Regions from separate parts of the Homo sapiens genome. Here region 2 is linked to region 1. The links come from fine-mapping of genetic effects on gene expression. Tissue or cell type: whole blood. Region 1 holds a variant in brackets; the other region holds the start of a gene. All regions are shown on one strand. Distances are from middle to middle.

Region 1 (7,459 bases):
AGACACCAGATCACCAGGGTGGTGAGTATGGAAATGTCACTGTCACCTACCATCCCATCCCCCTCCATGGACAGTGGCCTTTCAAAGTATTTGGCCAGTGAGTCATCAGAAAGATGCTATTTTTTCATTTTGGAAAAACACCGTATCACAGCAGGACATTTTGCTGTTATCTGTTCTCCCAAGAAATACAGTGGTGGGGGAGGACCCAACCCCTTCGAAATTAAAGCCATATGCATACCATATTAAAAAAAATAACCCACCCAGGCCATTCCATTATTGCTGACCATAGGAATTCAGTATTTATAATTTACATTCTTTCCCATACTTTGCTGTTTTTCAGACGTGAAAAGTAGAGGTTTATGGCCTCATCAGATTGTAAATCACATTCCTGAGGGCAGAGGGAGCTGCTACAGGGGAGAGAAATTGCCTTCCAACAGTTTGCAGAATGCGTCAAAACATTGGGAAAAGAATCCACGTGGAGTATGGGGACCCTGTTCAAGAGCTGGCATCTCGACTGATTTCAGGCCACAGAAACACAGGGATGTCAAGGCCGGAGTCTGCCTACTCACAGGACACAAAAGACAACGAAGGCCAACACCAGTTATTCTGTCCACAGAGCACGCAACCAGCCAACCACCCCTGGAGCCACCTGAAGAGTGGCTTGGAGGTGTGGCCATCTCTAATCAAGCAAGCACCTGAGATCTGAGTCTCCTTCCAAGGAGGAGGAGGAGGAGCAAAGGTGTGGCGGTCACCAGGGAACCAGCTCCTTGCCATCCATTTGCCAGCTCTGAGGCCAGTGAGGATCTATGGGGCTGTGGTCTGCTGATAGGAGTAAGACATGTGCACAAGAATCCAGGGGAGGAGCCTGGCACAGAGTCTCAGGCTGTGTTGCTCCGGTGGCCCCCGGGCACCTCCTGGCCGTGTGCTCTATGTGCAAGCTTGTGTTACTGTGGCTGCTGGGAGGATTCAGGGACGAGAGGGAAGGGGTGCGGAGAGCCCCACACGGGGGTGTTTTGAAGGCTCCAATCCTCTGAATGCCACTGTCTGGAAGTCATGTTAGCAGTGGCCCTAGTGAACTCTTATTCCCCTGCTCCTGGTCTGGATTTCATCCACTCTAAGAGAGGTGGAGGATCCCTAACATTTTGAAAGCTGAAGATCTTTCTTAAGCCTTTCCCACGCTGCACTCATAAAATACCTAATCAGTCCATGACGTATGCAGTTGGAGAGATGAGATTGAGCCCAAACAGCCCTTTGTCGGGCGGGTGGGAACAGTCAGGCTTACAGCCCGGATTTCCAGTATGGATTGTTACATAAACCTTGCCTGCAATTTGACTCTGTAATGAAAGCTATTGTGTGTATACTTCAGACACGATAATGAAATATTTTGGTTTTTTTAGTCTCAAATGTTAGAAAACCAATTTTCTTTTAAAGGCAGACAAACTTCATTTCCTGTGGTTTGTAAAACCACAAGAGTCTCCTTTACTCAGCATCCAGAAAGGGGCCACACCCTACAATGGAACACCAGGCTCTGACGCCCTGGGATGACTGCTCCGAGGGGCAGGAGGTCACAGCTCTGAGCAAATCTTCCTGCCACCGCAGGGCACTGTCGGTGCCCACAGTTTGCAGACCCTGGCCAGGGTGATGTCTTGAGCATTCCAGTAACAAAGAAAAACCAGCAATTAACTCCCAGGCACAAGTACGAGCGTGAGCCCAGATCACTTAAAGAGGCTGGGTGGTTGGTTGCATCAGCTGTGAAAGCAAAACCCTTGGGTAAATTCTATGTTCTGAATGATGTTACTGTCCTCACTGGGGTTACGAGAGGGGAAGGGATCTGCCAACACCCTTCTCTCTGCTCCAAGAGGACAACAATGCTGGGGCTTAGGAGTCCCTTTTGCTAGAAATGCAGGCAGGAAGCTTGCTGTCACCCGCCTCCCCAGCTGGGTGTACTGAATATGGAGGTAGAGACCAGGCTTCAACCAGAGTATTATGAGTATCAGAGTATCATGAGGGATAAATTCAGCTTAGCCCTGTGAGGCCTTGGAGGTACTTGGACATGTTGCAAACCCTTGAACACTGTTAGACTGTGACAACAAATATCTCTTTGCAGGACAAGCAACTTCAAAATTCCACCTAACAAGCTGCAAGAAAGGGAATATCAGAGTAGACCAAGTCACAGATGAACTTTCTGAAATGGACTAAAGGCATTTTTTAGTGAACATGGAAGAAAAGGAAGATTTTTACAACGTAGCATTCCCACAACCTAAAAAAATTTCACATCCAACTGTTTTTTTATCTTCTTTGGTAGACATCAATGAAATAATTCCTTTAAATTCACAGAAGATAGCAAAATTAAAAAGCCATATTTATTTAATGCATCAAATACCAAAGTTCAATTAAGGAAACTATTGCAATCTTCACCTGAGATAGGCCCATCATCAGGTTAGAATAAAGTGTGATAAGGGGAAATGTTGTAAAAACCTCTTACGGCATAGCAACATGACTGCAGCCCACCAGTCTCAGCCATTACTGATACTGACCCTTGCAAAGAATCAAATCTCTAATATAATCCTGAGAATGTGCACACACATGTGAAGGAAAGAGGTGTATTATGTAATGGAACACTGATAGACAGACGTCTTAGCTCGCCTTACAGTTTTTTTTTTTTTTTTTTTTTTTTTTTGAGATAGTCTCGCTCTGTCGCCCAGGTTAGAGAGTGCGGTGGCGTGATCTCGGCTCACTGGAACCTCCACCTCCTGGGTTCAAGCATTTCTTCTGTCTCTGTCTCCCGAGTAGCTGGGACTACAGGTGCCTGCCACCATGCCCGGCTAATTTAAGTATTTTCAGCAGAGACAGGGTTTCACCATATTGGTCAGGCTGGTCTCAAACTCCTGACCTCAGGCGATCCACCCACCTCAGCCTCCCAAAGTGCTGGGATTACAGGCGTGAGCCCTGCGCCCGGCCAGCTCTCCTTACATCTTGATTTCAATCCTATAAATGGGAAATGGTAGGGAGCACTGTCTAGTCTACTGTGGGATTTCTAGTTGTCATAACAATAAGAACCATATAAACAACGCCCACCTGGTAAACATTAGGGTGGCCCAGGAACTCTGCAGCAGTCACTGAGCACATTCCAAAGAGCGGATGTTAACCCCCCAACCCCGTATTTTAAAGGGCTAGCTTCAGTCTGGCTGCCAATGGTTACATTTTTTCTTCCCCACCTTGTGTTTAGCCTCCCCTTCTGTGTCCAACCTCCTCCACTTCTCAATGACCCCAAGGGCCTCTGTAAGTGCAGGATTCTACCCAAAACCCTCCCAATTCCAAAGGGTGGGCCTTGGCATAAAGAGGCATCATTCCAGGGTGCTACACGGTGGCTTCTGAGGGAAGACCAAGAAGGCTGAACCTGTTGTATTTGGTAATGAATTTTGTTTTCTCCTGGGTTGGGTGAGCACCTTAGGAGCTTACTGTGGAAGCAGAGTCCTAGCGAAAATAAGACTGGCATTGATAGGATGTCTTGTATCATCAAAATGCTTAACAGGTCCATGAAACATCCTAGCATTGCTGTGAGAGTGGTTCCAAGGTTTCTATGAATGGTGGAAACAGACACAAACGAAATGTGGGAAGAAGCTTTGGGAAGACCAAGAATGAAAAAAAGGGAAAAGAACCTAACACTCAATGCAATGCTACTTAAGGAGAAAAATACATAAACCGTTCTTCAAGCTTTAGGTCCAAAACAATGTTCTCTCTTAAGAGGGTGGTTTGCAAACAGGGACCATGAGATAATTTACAATCAAATCATTTCAGATATTGAATGATGATTCTGAAACACGCATTCTATTTCCATCAATGTGAGGTTTATTTCCATAGAAACGGTGAAAAAAGTAGGCCAAACCCAGCAGTATGGCTTCTAAAAGGAATAGCAGCTGTGGTTCTGGCCAGCCATGGAAAGCACTGGTTTTGTAACTACTATAGTAAAGAGCTCTGACTGAAGGGAAATAGAAAGTTTCAACTCAAAGAAAGGGCATGGAAAGTATCTGAGAACTTTCCTGGCTGTTTCTTACAAAGCCATGGAGAAAAAATCATCTCCTGTGCACCCTGCTCTTCACAATGCCACAGTAAAGTCGAATTCACCACCTGCGAAACAGCTGCCTCCTGTAGGCTGGCCTCAGAGGAAGCACACATGCTCCATCAGTTGCAACAAGGCGAAAGTCAGAAGAGTGTGAAAGTGTCAGGCCCAGTGCTCCCGGAAAATGAACCCGGAAACACTCAGTGAGGCACCACCGGTGTGAGAAAGAAGAGACAGGTGTCTTCTCCAATGGGCACAAGTATGTCATGCTTAGAAAAGCAGAACACAGGATGAAACAAAACATATTTATTTGCAAAGAAAGATCATGTTTAAATTGTACCTGTGTTTAAAAATGGCCTCTTTGATGGGTTATAAAAGTGCAGGCAGGTTTTATGAAACACGCACTTTGCCTCTCTTCTATCCTTTTGTGGGAAGCAGGCAGATGCTGGCTGGAGGACATTTGAGAGCTCGGAGCTGAGGCTCATCACAGCCAAATCCCTCACTCACCAAGTGAGCGGAGCTGCCACTGACGCTTCTCCACTCCCGCAGAATCTACTATTGAGCACTGGGCCCCCTGAGGACAGGATGTGACCCTGGCTGGCATGATTCATTCAACCCGTTCATCTTGGAATTCTTTTGCAGAAAAAAAAAAAGTGACACTTCTATGGCTAAAGATTTCCTTAAAGAAGAAGAAACATCAGAACGAACCTTTGTGCTGTGTGAAATGAGGGAACAAAAGATTACTTTCAGTGAGTTGATATCTGTAAGCTAATCAACTGGGTACTGGCCTCTTGTTAGAGGAAAAAAAAGTCCAACTTGGAAACCATTACCACAGGAAAAAACAATGACTATGTTGTTCATTCCTGTTGGTCACTTGGGTAGTCTAAGAAGTAGGACATATATGTCTGTAAGCCCTTTAAAATACACATCTTTTCTTTTTTCTTCTCACTATGTAAAACACATATATATTATCCTAAAGTCACTTGAAAAACACAGACTGCTTACAATCAATAGAAGATACCAGTAAGATGCAAGAAAATGAGCATTTTACAGACAGACCTTTGATAGGCTTTAAAGTGAATCGTTTTTATTTAAAACAGGGATCCATCAGAGGTGGTGAACTATCAAGGTCAAGGTTCTAGAGCATGGCACAGATGAAAGGTAATA[C/AATAC]TCACCAGCACCTCACATGGGACTCAGTGACAATGTCAGCAACACACCATGGAAGGAGAACAAACCCGATGTAAAAGGCACCTAGCTGGGGAGAAGCTGTGGTGTTCACTGCCTCTCTAGCAGGTTTGCTTTTGTGCACTGTGGCTAAGTCTGGATGAATAATATTGGGAAGGGAATAATCGGAAGCGAGGCTCCTATGCAGGCAGCTACCCTCTCCTGATTGGTGTATACTCGCCATGTGGTAGGAGGTCTTACAGGAGACTGAGGTTACCAAACAGGAATACAACACCTCTCTCCCTTTTCTGCTCTAGAAGGAAGGGGAACCCTTCCCCCAGTATCAATTTCAGCAGCGGCTTCTAAAGGCTGTTAAAAAGCATCCTAACTTAAAAACAAATAACAACAGTAACCAAATAAAAGACAGAAAAGTGGCCTGAACTTAAATCAATCAATGGAAAGGTAGATTCATAAAAATAAAATAAAAACTGGTGACCAGTCCATTAACCATGGGGTTAATGCCTCGTCTGAAGGAAGATGTTTACGCTGCATCCACGATCCAGCAGGCGCGGAGCTGCTCTTGGCAACTGTGAATGAATAGCTACCGTTTCCCTTCAACACACCGCGCTGCCACCGGTGACCGCATGTCAAGTGCTGAAGTTAGAAGAGACCCCACGTTGGCAAAGGCCCCCCAGGCGATGATCTGCCTGACGCGGCCAGGTCTGTGGGAAACAAGACTTACGATCTCAAATAATGACCCCCAAGTGCCCTCGCCTCTTCCTGCTTGCCCTGTGCGCCTCGACCTCCTCACGGGGAGTTCCAAATGAGTTCCATTTCCCTCTCAGTTCTAGGCACTCTGGAACATCTTTGATTAACCAGGGTTTTTCATTTCTTTCCAACGCCATTGGTGACTTTTGACTTGGAATGCCGATTCCTTCTCCTGGAAGAATGGCTTTCGTTGTTGCCTGCATGCTTGGGTGGGCTGTCTTCAGAACCTGGCCAAAGGAATCAGAGCACACCGTCACCCTGGGCTCTGGAGATTGGTGACTGTCCCTTTCCAGACCGCCCTAGGCTTGCCGGGGAACAGGTTCTTCCCTGATACGTGCACTCCCCCTAGTGGCCTCATTCATAAATGAAGGCGAGGCTCTCAAACACAGAACTAGTACTGAAGGAGCACACGCGGTGGCGCGGGGTTCAACGCAATAGCGCCCCAAAGTCTGGGTGGTTCCTGAAGCGTGTGTACATCTGTCCTGTGTATGATGGACATGGTCATGATGGTGAGGACCAGAAGTGAGAGCACAAGTGAAACGGAAGCCCAAACGAGGGGCAATTAAAACACACACCACGCGGTGCCCATCCTGCCCTGCAACCAAGGGTTTCCATCCCTTCACCTGCTCCACACCACCTTCTAAACCCGACATCAGGAAAGACTCTTGACACTATAAAATCAGAGCTATTTCACACCCTCTACATTTGATCTGGAGAACATCTTTACAATTCAGGCCCCTGCTGCCCACGATGGAGGGCACTGGGCAGCCTCTGCCCTCCAGCTGAGCCTTTGTTCAGCCCCTGCCTGGCCTAGCGGCCAAGCCAAAGGGTTCTCTGCCCCAGGGCTCTGATCCAGCCCCATAGGAAATCTCCACCTGAGGCTGCCAACAAAAAAAAAGTTACCAGAGTTACAGTCTCCACTGTAAGGAGCATTTGACTTAGACTAAGAGATTCTTTCCCCACTCAGAAGACTTCTGTTTTTGTTATTTTTCTTTTTTTATTATTCCATCAAGTAAATACATCTCTACTACTGCTTAATTCTCTTCAGTGGAGAACCTGTAAGTGCCAAGGTTGTTTGTAAGGGCATGGTTCTAAATAAGATAGCTGGGGAGCCCCTCTGTCCATCTCTATCAGATTTCACAACGGGCCGCTCACTGATCAATTCCGTGGTTCAGGAGAAACTTTCCCCAAAAGGGCGGCCAGCAGCTCAGCAGAGTGTATGTTAGTGTCTCCCCTGGGAGATCTTTAATGAGCCTGATGCCAAAAGAACTTAGGAGAATGACTGCAACAGGGCGCTTTCTTCTCCATTGGCCCACCGTTTCTCTGAGCAATTTTGTGAGCTAAAATTCAGTCTTTAGTATTTCTAATTTTCTTTCTTCAGCCAAGCTTCCCAAGTAGCTTATAAGGATTGACGAGGAATTACTGTCCAATGAAATCACCTCAATGTCATTATTCTACAAGTCTAAT
Region 2 (7,459 bases), 75 kb after region 1:
CCAACTAAAATCTTATAAAATAAATAATAAGGCACTGGAGTTAATCATTACAAAAGAACATAGGATACATTTTCATTTAAGAAGTCGTTACTTTCCGTCTTTATGGAGGAATATAGAGCTATCATTGTAATGCCCCACTTAAGTCACAAATCATTACAAAAAATGAGTAAGATTTAGTAAGTACGAATTCTATTAATGGTGCTTATGATTTTATATAAAGTGAAACTTGTTATTAATTAGTTCTTCATTATGTGATTTCTGTCTCTTTATGAAATTAGTGGAAGAAATAAAATTGTTAACATTTTTGGATGAGACTACAGTCTGAAGTTCAGATTATGGTTCTTCTATTATTTTGGACAAGCTGTTAAAATTCGTATTCATTTCTTATACTTTCACTGCTGCAATTTATTGACTGCCTTGACAGAATATGATGTAAAAGGAAATTTCAGAAGATTGTGACTTTTTATATCAGAAAAGAGGAAGAGAAACCTATTTTGAAAGGACCTAGAATAATATTAAAAATGAAAGGCTGAAACAAATGGCTCATTCTTGCTTCTCATTATTTAAAACAAAATACCATAATTATTTTTCTAATTTCCAGAGAAACTCCCTCACTAATTTCATTATTTCAAGCCCACACCTAAGATGAAGTTAAACTGAAGTTAACATCAAACAGGTATGTATGTTATCTAATGTCCATTTTTCCAGTGCTTTTATCCTTCTCAATTACAGAGCATACTACATCCTCGTTCAATAATAAATATAAATTAGAAGACAGTAGCATTCAATGAAATCACATCGTAATAACCACTAATGTTTATTAAGCACTTAATACTTGCCATGCACTGAGCTAAACAGATTATCTAAAAAGATGAATTTAATCCTCATGACAAATAATCCCGACAGATTAATGTATTGATATTTTCATTTTACATACAGATAAGGAAACTGAGGCCTAGCAAAATTATGTGGCCACACAGCTATTAAGTGATAAAATCAGGCAACATAATGAAGTATTTGAAAGTAACCATAGTTAGGGACATGATTCATTTCTCTCCAAAGCTAGAAATATGTCTGGTCAGGTACTGTGGAAAGGTCTGGTCTTCACCTGCTGCACAGCTTTAGCAGATTTTATAGTAATAGTGGCAAGATCCCTCAATCATTAAAGAGTAAGCAATTGTTACTTAAGCTTTATACCTTTAGGTAGATTCTTTCAAATGGATAAACACTTACATAACAAGAACCAAGAGTCAAATGAATCCCAGAGGTAAGGAACAAGTGTGATGTGGGAGGATATTAGTTTTATGAGGATTTGAAAAACTGCAGTTATTCCTAAGGGAGGCACCACCGGCACTTGTGTGTGTGTATGCAAACGACTGTGTAGAAGACAATTCCCTTTATGTTGTACAGCGCTGTCACATATGTCACAATACATTTAGTATCCGTTAACTGCTCCCCCTCCCAAATACTAGAAGTTCTCTCAATCCTTGTGACTACCCAATATATATATCCCTACACATGTTCTGCTGACCCTGACAGAGAACCTTGATTGTTGGATAAAAATACTGGGAGAGAAGTAACTGACATGAATTGTACATTGTGCTCCAGGGACTCTGCTAAATGCATTCACACACATTCATTTAATTTTCATAACCCTATATAAGTAGATATTTCATCCCCATTTTACGAGTGTGGCCCCTGAGGCTCAGAGCAAGGTTATGCAACTTAATTAAGGACACACAGCCAGTTTTGAAACCAAAAGTGTGGCTCAAAAACTACTCTACTCTAAGTTGGCCTTTTAAGCCATAATGGTGAGAGAGGTGTGACTTCCCTTTCTTTAAAGAGGTTCATTCAGAAAGTATAAATCATTCTAAGTAGGAACCACGGTGTGTACCTCCTTATGAACCAAGGATGAATTAGTTCTCTAGGTTAGGAATGAGGAGCCACAGGCGCAGTGCCAGAGTTAACATGAGGTGTGTTCAAGATTTGGGCTGGGCAGCTCCTATGAACCGGTATATATTAGAATGTGTGTGTATGTTTTCCAGGGAATAAGAGAGTTGTGTTATGCTGTGTGAGGTTTATGTGTTTCATTTAACACACAGCAGTTACTATACCCCAGGCACCATTAAAATTGCTGGACAAGATCACATTTCAGCACGTATGTTAGGTAATGAGTGAGCAGGGTATGCACCGCGTGATGTGTGGCGGGCTGGTGTCTGTGCAGCCATGTACACAGATGATGGGTATTGGGCTGTGCTGGAAAGGAAAGGTCCGCTGTGAGGTGTGTGTTTAGAGTGGCAGTTTGTGCCGTGGTACAGATGGTAGTGTTTGAGGCTGGGGGAAGTGTTATGCTGGATGACTTGTGTGCAATGCATACGGGAAGTGCTGCACAGGAAAGACCGTGTATGCAGCACACATGTGCATTTTTTGTGCGTTACGGATAGTGCCGAATACCGGAGTTCCACAGGAAGGGATCTAGGTTGTGTCCTGGGCCTGTGTATGGTGCCTGCAGGCGCTGTGGATTGGGGTGCTTTGTATGTGTAGCGGTGTGTGCTGAAAGTGGTGCATACGACATGATTCATGCGGTGTGCTGGGTAGGGACGAAGGCTGGAGCAGTGCAGAGGAGGGGCCCGCGTCGTGATGTTGTGTGGAGCGATGCTGAGTGCGGTGGGTGAGGGGGCGATCGTGCTAGGTGACTCGCGTGCGTTCCCCGTGTAACCGGAGGCGCTGTATGGAGAAGGGGCACTGAGGGGTAGGGGAGCAGGCTAGCGTACTGTGAGACACCGGGCGGGCGGAGGGGCCGCGTGGGCGGCGGGCTGCCAGTGCGTGTGCGTGGAGCAGCCAGCCCACTTCCTCACCCAGAGCCATGCCGGGCCCCCCTCCCCGCCACCCTCCCTCCCGCCTCTTCCCTAGCCCTTGGACGCGCCCCCCGCTCGGCTGGGCCGCCCCACCTGGTAAAGGCGAAGTACATGAGGCTGACGATGGTGAAGCTGAGCAGGGTGATGGTATGCGGCCGGTAGAAGAAGTCAATGGTGATGTCCTCCACTTGCTGCTCGTTGATCATCCGGAAATGCATTTTGTAGTTCACATCATCCTTGCTTAGGGTCCGGCTCCCCACGCAGGACGCCATGGCCCGCCTCCCCGTCCTGCCGCGGTGGCGGCGGCCCCAGCCCGAGAAGGCCGGGACCCCGGGGGTGACTAGCCACAGTAGGCTAATAGCCGGACGGCAAAGCCGGGTCTGGCGCCCAGCAAAGGCTGGGAGCAGAGGGAAGGACAGGCGCGAGAGGGCGGGGTCGCGGCGCCGCCACCGCGGCCTGGGGCAGGGGACGCCGCCGGCCGTCCCCACGCTGTCATCCTAGCTGAGGCATCTCTACCACTCGAGGAATTTTCAGACTCCAAGTCCACAGGACTTCAGAGGAATAGCGAGCCGGAGAAGGGTAGCCGGGGCCCCTGGCTGGCTCTTTTCAGAGCACGTAGCCCGCTGTCTCCCCGCGTAACCCGGCACATGGTCTCGCCCACTCCGGGCGCGGCCCACGTGGGCCCGGGAGCGCGGCTGCGCTGTGTAGGGCGGGCTGAGGAGCCGGCGTGCGGCGCGGCGGGACGGGACGTGCGGCCCAGCGAGTTGGTCGGTCCCGGGGTCACCCGCTACGGGAAGCAGGCCTCGCCACAGGTAAAGCAGGAGCTGCCCCAGCACGAGGATCGCGCTCCTGGCGAGGGTTCAGGTTCCGGCGCACCCGCGTCCAGACCGCGCCCCAGGGCCTCAAGGGCCTTTAGGTTTTCGCGGCCCAGTAGAGGGTGATTGGTTTTGTTTTGTGTTTTTCCCTGGCTGATGTAGTGAAAACTCAACCATGCTGGCTAATTAGCGCAGTGTGAGAAGCCTCAGGAGGGGGCTCTGCCTTCCTGCGCAAGTTTGGGGAACTGAAGTGGGCTAAAATGGCCTGGGAAGTATTGAGAGACCCTTTATTAGGAAGCTGCCCCCATAACCTCCCTTTCTCTCCTGATTTCATTTATAGCATTTCGTAGGTAGAAATCTTGAACTCTATTTCAGTGCCTTTTTCTAGCGAAGCACTAGGCACTCATTGAGAACAGTATATATGAATTGTTAAGAGACTTCAGTTTCTTTAAGGGTTTTCTGTAATTTTCCTGATGAAAGGACCTTGTTAGAAGACTTCAGGTTACCACCTTACAGGGCTTTTATACACATCTGCACATCCCCTACCCGCTTTTGCATACTGTGTAAGCAAGTGAGTTAACTGTACTTGCCATTGATTTATTTCCATTCCGCAAACATTAGAGCAGTACAAGGCTCTGGGAAAGTGGAGAATAGTCCCCGGAAGGATGGATCCAGGGATGAGACCCAGCTCTGCTCTCGTGCATGAACAGTTAATCAATTGTTAAGATGTGTAGGCAGCAATGAAAGGATGTGGAGAAGATAGTGCACTTGTAAATAAAAATGCAAGGATAAACATTAGTTGTATGCACAAAGATCTTTTAATGACGGGGTGAAATTTGAAAGTGAGTCTTCCTGATGTTTAAGTGGTATTGAGTGTGGAAAGGCTTCAGGATGAATTTGGGATTTCAGGAGTTTGAAGTAGGATGAAGTGCTTAGACGTCAAAAAATGTTAGAGCTGATAGGGGCCTTAAGAATCATCTTATTGTACCCCTAGCCTTTTAAAAAAGCATTATTTGAAGAATAGTTATTGACCCCACCCCCACCCCCCACATCATGGGCTAGACTGCTGCTTTTGTTAGACTGCTGCCAGAAACAGCCTTGTCAAGGTAGCACAACCGAGGTCTTCTGACTTTCAATTTAGTGCCCTTATGACTACCGTGCAGAGAATGAATGTTGTAGGTTTGAGGGAAAACTTGGCACATTTGGAGTCCCATTTCCCACCAAAATCTAACAGAAACCACCTATCCCAGCAGGGTATTGTGAATACTTACTTCTTTTCTAAAATCATCGCAGAATGGGCCGAGCGCAGTGGCTCACGCCTGTAATCCCAGCACTTTGGGAAGCTGGGTGGATCACCTGAGGTAAGGAGTTCGAGGCCAGCCTGGCCAAGATGGTGAAACCCCGTCTCTACTAAAAACACAAAAAATTAGCCGGGCATAGTAGCGGGCGTGGGTAATCCCAGCTACTCGGGAGGCTGAGGCAGGAGAATCACTTGAACCTGGGAGGCAGAGGTTGCAGTGAGCCAAGATGGTGCCGTTGTACTCCAGCCTGGGCAACAAGGGCGAAACTCCGTCTCAAAAAAAATAATAATAATAATAATAATAAATAATTGCAGAATGAAAGGAAACTTTCACTTTTGTAAAATCTCTTTCAGCAAACTTCCCAAAACTACAGATCTCCAAGAAAAGATTAGACCCTCAAGTATTTGGTCTAATTTAGAGCATAAAACAAGCTGAATTCCAGTATGCAGAAAAACAAAGTATAAAGTTGTAGGCAGCAATTAATTCAGCAGAATTTTTGTATTTGGTTGTGTAACCAATAATAATGGCTAACATTTATTGAGCATTTCTTATATCCTGACTCCATCCTGTGTTTTATATGGATAATGTTATTTAACGTAAGATTATATGCATCAAATTTACCTTTCTAATTAGCTGGCTAAATATAAAATCCCTTCATATTCCTGGAGTTTAACATAGCACTAGCCTTTCCTGATAAAAATATTTTTGAAAACTACTTTTTCAGTCAAAATATACAGGTATTAATTGCTGGTTGCTTATTTATTTCTGTCACTTGGTTTTGTTACTAGTTTTGACCTTTTCTTTTTGAAGGCTTTTTTCTCCTTTCCTACAGTGAAACAAAACTTGACAAAACTGGTTTTGTTCAATTCCCTTTGGAAGAACAGCTTTATCTGTGAAGTAATCAACAGTGTTCAGCCCTGAGAATGAAGCAAGAAACTGCTTTCACTGTTCTGTATATCAATGATAATATTTTGATGATTTGTTTAGGACACAGTAGATTTCTGTTTTTTCATTTTGGGACAAATTTATATACATAAAATGCATTTGAATAATTCAGTGTTACTTTGATCAGCAATGTGCTGCGGAAACACCCTTCACACCAAATTTCAAGAACACTTATTTGCATCAGCTTATTCTCTTTAAATGATTAAATTAACAGATTAGTGAGGTCTGCTGTCACTTGAACATTTGCAGATTTTTGTTTTAAGCATTTTTCTTACACCAGTGTCATTGCATTTTGTTTTTAAATTGTAAAGTATATCTTTATTTTTCCACTCAGAAGTTCCTGTCTGTTGGTTTGTAACTGAGATTGCCTTGTTGTTGGCTTTTCCTGTACATAAGAAACATCTCACTATTTTAGACTAAATATATATTTAAACACCTTTCAATTAGAAAAAAATAATTTCCAGTTTATCTTTTTGTTGTTTGAATACCGTTTTAAACATTTAAGTAAATTAAATTTCTCTTCTTTTGACGGTTATATCTTTCCTTTGTAGACTAAGAAAAATGGCTTTGTCAGCCCAACAGATACCCAGATGGTTTAACTCAGTTAAGTTGAGGAGCCTCATTAATGCTGCACAACTCACAAAACGTTTTACTAGACCAGCAAGAACACTGTTACATGGCTTTTCTGCTCAGCCTCAGATATCCTCTGACAATTGCTTTCTCCAGTGGGGATTTAAGACTTACAGGACTTCCTCCTTATGGAATAGTTCCCAGTCTACTAGCTCAAGTAGTCAGGAGAATAATTCTGCCCAAAGCAGTCTGCTTCCTTCCATGAATGAACAGTCACAGAAGACACAAAATATATCCAGCTTTGATTCTGAGCTGTTTCTAGAAGGTAATTCTGAACTTTCAGAAAAGTCTCCCTTTCCCTACTTTGGCCATTTGAACAAGCTACCTGTTTACCTTCTGCTAGCCCATTTCAGGTAATATTTTGTGCCAAGAAAGAAAAAGAATAATACCAGTTCTATTGATGAACTTCTATCATGCCTTTATTTTACTGGTAAGAAAAAAAGTTTGTGGGCTAACGTGTAAGATTATTTTATAGCTACACATATAAAACATTTGCTTTTTAAATATTTTATTGTTTAGATTCTTAAAACAAAATTCTTCTAGTGGTAATTAGTTTTATTAGGGTATAATTATATCAAGTAAAATTCATCTTGTGGGATATATAGTTCTATGAATTTTGACATATGCATTTAGTGTGTAAGAACTACTGCAATCAACAAATAAAACAATTATATTAACTCCACAGAGTTCCCTCATGGTCGCTTTTTAGTCAATCCTCTCCTTCCTATGGGTCCTATTCTAGGAATATTTCGCTGGTAATGAAATGATATAAGGTTAAGTAGAATATGAAGGAAAGAGAGCTGGGGAGAGGGCAGGGAGGAGATGCTGGCTATAAATGATGAGAAAGGATAGTTAATGATGAGAAGCACAAAACAGAACAAAAGATCACAGACCTGATTCCTTAGCTTAA

What was found. PIP is the estimated chance that this variant, and not a neighbour inherited with it, causes the effect.
Region 2: it holds the start of PTDSS1, and the variant in region 1 is fine-mapped to the expression of PTDSS1 in whole blood (TOPMed, PIP above 0.99).

Annotation. Positions count from the first base shown.
Region 1 is chr8:96,332,217-96,339,675 of GRCh38, reverse strand. It overlaps PTDSS1 (phosphatidylserine synthase 1), which reads right to left. Exons shown (of 13, transcript NM_014754.3): 13 at 2,681-6,219. The coding sequence ends at 6,110. Among named protein-coding and RNA genes, the nearest start is that of PTDSS1, 74 kb to the right of the region's middle. RefSeq lists an enhancer at 1-148. The variant C/AATAC (reference allele first, on the strand shown) is at 5,231.
Region 2 is chr8:96,257,712-96,265,170 of GRCh38, reverse strand. PTDSS1 (phosphatidylserine synthase 1) reads right to left here and starts at 3,269. Exons shown (of 13, transcript NM_014754.3): 1 at 2,952-3,269. The coding sequence starts at 3,130. MTERF3 (mitochondrial transcription termination factor 3) reads left to right here and starts at 3,561. Exons shown (of 8, transcript NM_015942.5): 1 at 3,561-3,670; 2 at 6,471-6,814. The coding sequence starts at 6,481. It overlaps LOC105375652 (a long non-coding RNA gene), which reads left to right. Exons shown (of 3, transcript XR_928431.3): 3 at 279-365. RefSeq lists enhancers at 2,344-2,583, 2,729-3,421, 3,904-3,963, 4,115-4,808 and silencers at 2,734-2,913, 2,964-3,333, 3,514-3,663, 3,416-3,740.